Linked DNA regions of Homo sapiens: region 2 is linked to region 1. The links come from fine-mapping of genetic effects on gene expression. A gene starts in region 1. The other region holds a variant in brackets. All regions are shown on one strand. Distances are between the middles of the regions. Region 1 holds the start of EPDR1 (ependymin related 1). Region 2 overlaps EPDR1 (ependymin related 1).

Evidence for each region. PIP is the estimated chance that this variant, and not a neighbour inherited with it, causes the effect.
Region 2: its variant is fine-mapped to the expression of EPDR1 in prefrontal cortex (CommonMind, PIP 0.95).

The regions. Positions count from the first base shown.
Region 1 is chr7:37,919,362-37,922,271 of GRCh38, reverse strand. EPDR1 (ependymin related 1) reads right to left here and starts at 1,632. Exons shown (of 3, transcript NM_017549.5): 1 at 1,064-1,632. The coding sequence starts at 1,332. RefSeq lists a silencer at 938-1,387.
Region 2 is chr7:37,951,935-37,954,844 of GRCh38, reverse strand. It overlaps EPDR1 (ependymin related 1), which reads right to left. Exons shown (of 3, transcript NM_017549.5): 3 at 2,909-2,910. Among named protein-coding and RNA genes, the nearest start is that of EPDR1, 33 kb to the right of the region's middle. The variant C/TTTGC (reference allele first, on the strand shown) is at 1,177.

The DNA of each region.
Region 1 (2,910 bases):
GCTTTTAGAATAAATGATATTATCAAGTTTGGTTTTGTTCTATAAACTAATGGTGCCCTTTTGCTATAGATCTTACAGTCCATTGGCGTTTCAAACCATGGAAATTCACTTTGCAACTCCTAATGATGCAAATGCCATAAAGAGAGGCCAGTGAGAGGAACACACTTAGGGGGAACGGCAGGGCTCTGGAAGGGAGACAGGTGGTGATCCCAAATTAGAAATCAGGTCTTAAAGGGGCCACAAGCGAGATGACATCTCAAAAAGAGGGTTTCCTTTGTCACAACAGATGTGAAAAGGTGAATGGTCAGACCAATACTTAAAAGAAACTTACAGCTTTGCCCCTGTAAGCGATACTGTGCAGCCATTAAAAATAGGAGGCAAGCTAATAAAATGGCAAATAAGAACATATAAGGGACAATGTTAAGTTAAAAAAAGATTCAGATAACGTATGGCTTTTGATCATAGTATGTAAAATTTGCTTTAAAATAAACAAAAAACTTAAAAGGAGTAGACCAAAATTTTAATGCTGTAACAATTTGCTAAGTTTGTGGGTGAAATTTTCTTTTTATCACTTTCCCATACCGTTTGTAATCTTGCCATATTCTTTTAAAATACAAAAAGTATTTCTTAGAAAATACATATTCTGCGTGCCTCTCTAGCAGATGTCTCTAGAAAGAAATGAGATAGCGCAGAAGACACGCCCTAGACTGCAGGGGGCTCCATGAGCCCAGAGCCTGACTCAGCAGCGTGAGAACAGGGGCGAACCTGGGCATGGGGCACTCTGCAGCTTGATCCCGCCCTGGATGGGTCCCTTCTTTACCTGCCACCGCCTCGCTGGGTGTTACTGAGTCCCCCGCCAGCAGGCCGCCCTCGGTGGGCGCAGCGCCCCTCCCAGTCCCGGACCATGCTATCCCCAAGAGACCCTCCTCGCGAAAGATCTCTCTGGGAGAAGGGAGGAGCTGCAAGGGGCCGGAAAGAGTTACAGGGCGCAGGCCTCTGCGACCTCGCCCTCCCCATGCCCGCGCGGCTCCCTACTCCCGCCCCGCGGGCCGATGACCTGTACCTCTTGCAGGGGATCAGCGCCTTCCTCTCGTCCAGCACCCGCACGCGCTGGTTGAGCCCGTCGTAGGAGAGCAGGGCGCGGCTGTTGCGCCCGCTACTTTGCTGGTACATAACCTGGCGCCCCTCCCACTGCTGCGGCGCCTGGCACGGGCGCGGGGCTCCCACCGCCCCCAGGCTGCACAGGCCGCACAGGGTCCAGGCCCAGAGGCCGCCCAGCAGCCAGGCACCCAGGGCGCCCGGGACGGTGCGGAGGGGAGCGCGTCCTGGCATCGCGGTCAGCCTTCCCCGGCCCGAGGGCAAGCCCAAGCCCAAGGGGGCGCTGAGGCGTCCGGGATCAGAGTGGCTCCCGCCGGCTCTTTCCGCACTGTGCCGGGAGTGTGGTCTGGACCAAAGTGCTTCCTGTCCCTTCGGTGGCCTCTGCCGCTTTTGAGATCCGGACGCGCGAGTCCCGGTAGCCGGGACCAGGGCCCGGGGAAGGCTCCAGTGAATCGCGCGGGAGCTATTTCTGCCTGGGCCACTGCCTGCTGCCACTGCCTGCTGCCACTGCCTTCTGCCGCTTCGGTTTTCACTGCTCACTGCTGCCAACAGGAAATGCAGTGGCAGTGGTGCCACTAGCATCCTGGGAGGCATCGTGTTTTAAGAGGGGGGATGGGGGGAGACTGTGCTGAGAAGTGTGTTTCTCCACTAACTTCAGTGTTCAACAGGTAATCACACAGGGAGGGGCAAGTTCAAGGTCAAGATAGGAAAAGCAGAGCTGCTGCGTTTGCTGTGCAAACGTTTGCCCCGCCTACATTGCCCCTCGACAAAATTGCAAACTTCTTCCTCCAAATTAAAAGTGGAAAGACGAGTCTTTTCCTGAAGAAATGATACTAGCTATTCATCATGGCCGCTCCTCAGCTCCCATTCCCAGTGAAGAGTCTAGGAGACTAGTAGACAGCCCCTTGCATTGGGCCTAGGACTCATGGACATAGCCTCAAGGTCACATTGCAGTGAGACTGCTCCTCCCATCGCCTGGCAATACCACCAGCCGAGTGGTTTGGGTGTCTGGGGGGTTTCGCTTCTTCAAGAATAAGGTTAATTGGGTTTATAGTTATGTAATGTTAGGATCTATAATATGGAATGAGCGAGGCTCACACACCTGTAGTCCCAGCTACTCCTGAGGCTGAAGTGGGAGGATCGCTTGAGCCCAGGAGTTAGAGGTTGCAGTGAGCTATGATCATGCCACTGCACTCCATCCAGCCTGGGTGACATGGCGAGACCCTGTCTCTAAAAATATAGTGATAAAGTATGAAATCAAGAAAAAAGAAAGGAACTAAAAAAATGTATAGCGTCTTTCCATTTGAACTGCATTTCAAGGATGATTAAGATTGAGCCAGGTGAAAGTGGGAGATAACATTCCTGAATGAAGGGCATAAGGACAAGAAAAGAATAATGCTGGGGTTCAAGGACAAGGTAGAGGAGTACTCTGAAGCCATAGCACTCATTTTAAGGAATTTGTCATTGATATTGAGGACTGTGGGAACTATCAATCAATGTAAAGCTAGGGAGGAGCATCATCAGGCATATGCTTTAGAAAGCCCACTTAGACAACAGAAAGGGTAGGGCCAGAGGGAAGGCAGGGAGAGGAGGAAGCTACTGTTATCATCCTGGAAAGAGATGATCCTGACTCAGCTAAGGCAGCGGGAGTGGTCATGGAAAGGGTGGAAGACAGGTGGGAGCTGTAGAGAAGCATTTCAACTCAGAGAGAGAGGTTTCTGGTTTGGGCCACTGGGAATCCAGTCCTGAGTGAGGAGAGATGATCAATTCATTTTAGGATTGGTTGATCTTGAGCTGACTGTGGAGTATTAA
Region 2 (2,910 bases), 33 kb before region 1:
ACCACAACACAACACATGCATATACTCAGATTACTTAAATCCTGAGTGTGTTGTATTCATTGCACATTATTTCTTTTTAAAAAAGTTATTATTATTATTTATTATTATACTTTAAGTTCTGGGGTACATGTGCAGAACGTGCAGGTTTGTTACATAGATATACACGTGCTGTGGTGGTTTGCTGCACCCATCAACCCATCATCTACATTAGATATTTCTCTTAATGCTATCCCTCCCCTAGCCCCCCACCCCCTGGCAGGCCCCAGTGTGTGATGTTCCCTTCCCTGTGTCCATGCGTTCTCATTGTTCAACTCCCACTTATGAGTGAGAACATGTGGTGGTTGGTTTTCTGTTCTTGTGTTAGTTTGCTGAGAATGATGGTTTCCAGCTTCATCCATGTCCCTACAAAGGACATAAACTCATTCTTTTTTATGGCTGCATAGTATTCCATGGTGTATATGTGCCACATTTTCTTTATCTAGTCTAACATTGATGGGTATTTGGGTTGGTTCCAAGTCTTTGATATTATTTCTAAATTATAGGATAGTTATAGCCCACTCCTTGAATGCTGAGACTACATTATATTTTCCAACTTTAAATATGAAATAAATATTGAAAATAAGTGTTCATTTTTGCTCTAATGAAAACAGTATAAATTTTAAAATTAGGATATCATTAAGGGAAGCATCTCTCTCCCTGAATAAACTATACAACAAATCATAGGCCCAGTATTTTTTCTACACATGCAGTTGAGCTAATAATTCTGCTTTAAAACAAATAAAAATATGTTCTAATCATTTATTATCTTAGCATCATTCCAAAAAGAGATGGTTGTTGATATCAGAATATCCATAAATAAAGTTAAATTTGTCTCTTAAAGAGGTGTTCACCTACAAAGCCTTCAAATATCACCAGTTATTCACAAGTCTTTGGCTGAGGAGGCTTACTCTGTCATTCAATATAAATTATTTTCACTCAACAAGAATGACAAGAATGGCATTCCTGCATTTGAGGTGCTTTCTGTGGATGTAGAAAGACAAGATCTACGTAAGTGGAAAAATGTAAAAACACCCCATATGCTGCAGGTAGATATATAGGCAAAGTGATTTAAAATAACAGAGGCAACATTGAGAAAATGAAGGCTTTTATTTGTTTGTTTGTTTGTTTGTTTGTTTG[C/TTTGC]TTATTTGAGACAGGGTCTCTCTCTGTTGCCCAGGTTGGAGTGCAGTGGTGCAATCTTGGCTCACTGCAATCTCCACCTCCTGGGGTCAAGCGATTCTCCCAGCTCAGCCTCCTGAGTAGCTGGGACTGCAGAGAAAGTGGATTTGGTAAAGGAAACCCAGCAAGAGGTGAGCGTTTTGTTTTCAAATTATGTCAAATTTAATTTGGCGGGAAATTATTAGTAGTTAATTGAAAAATTTCCCAAAGACCTAAAATTCTTGGCCTTCATTAAATATTTAAAGAATTTTAAAATGTGTCCCAATTTTAGGAATCTCAATTAGCAAAGCTTATGGTAAGAAACTCACCCTGATGACAGAGCAATTGGGGACAGAAAGGCTGGGCCTCCTTGACTCCACATGGCCCATGAGATAGGGGGAGTGAAGGCTCTGTCGTAGAGCTGGGCCTTCAGGGTGGCAGAGTTGAAGGCAGGTGTATGTCAAGCACACCCTGGGGCTTGCCTGGATCCTGGCAATTTGGAAGTGGCAAGGCTTCATTTGGAGAAGTAGAAGTAAATTGTTCCAGTGCAGCATAAAGTTCAGAGACATATGAGGTGGGGTATCCACAAAGTGGTACCCAGCCCTGGCTCAGACCACTATCAGTGATACCACCTCTGCAGATGAGTGAGGCACTGGGATACTGCACTTTATTAATAGGTACAAGTCCACACCTATTTAATAGCCCTCTTCGTTGTGACTCTGGTGGCCACTAGAAAGTTTTTACATAAGACTGCAGAGTAAGGAAACCTTCCTGCCACCAAGAGGTGACCCAGCCATTACTCCTCAAGCCCTTTGGGCATTTAGGGAAAGAAGAAACTGTGCCAAGGAGTGAGGCTGGGAAGACTCAGAGGCCTGATGAAAAAGGGTGTGTCCACCATGCTATGGGGTCTCCACTTTACTTGTAAGCAGTGAAGAACCACAGAGGCAGGGCGCCATCAGATCAGATGTGACCAGATGTCAAATCCTTCTGGACTTTTTACTCCTTTCTGTGAAGTGGCTTAATAACCAAAACAGGCCAACTGAAAAACAAAAGGGTACCCACTTTGCATGGGCCTCCATAAAATAAAAGGAGTTTCCTTCTCTCTCTGAGTAAGGTTGTGGCCTGCAATGGGCAAAGACAAAGTCCCAGGGCTAAGGAGAGATGTGCAGCTTGGAGAGGAGAGGATCATTCTGTGGTTGGGGAGACAGGAAGTGTGGCAAACATGGTCACAAAGGCGTTAGCAGGCTGGGCCACCTAGAATGCAGCTGCGAAACTCTTCCCTGTCTGTGAGGTTCAGATGCCTGCATGGCCAAACTTCACAATCCTCTGCAACCCCAGGAACCTGCATGGGCACTGGAGGGAGCAGGTGCTTAGTACTGGCTTGTGATTTGGCTGACCAAGTGAATGAATGAATGAATGAATGAACACAGGATGGCTTCTAGAGAAAAAAGACGAGGGCAAGGACAGAGGGTGTGAAGATCCTGCAAAGGCCAATGATGTTAAGAGCCCAGAGCTGGGTGGTGGCTGAGGGAGTGGAGAAGAGGCAGAAGTTTTAAGAGCTATTTTGATAGGACTCGGGATATTGACTGCCAGTGAGGACTGAGGGAGACAAATGGATCAAGAATGACTTGGAAGCTTCTGGCCTTGGCAAATGGACACTGGAGTTTAGGGAAGGTAAGAGGGAGAGCAGGCTTTTGAGAGAGGATAACAAATTTGATT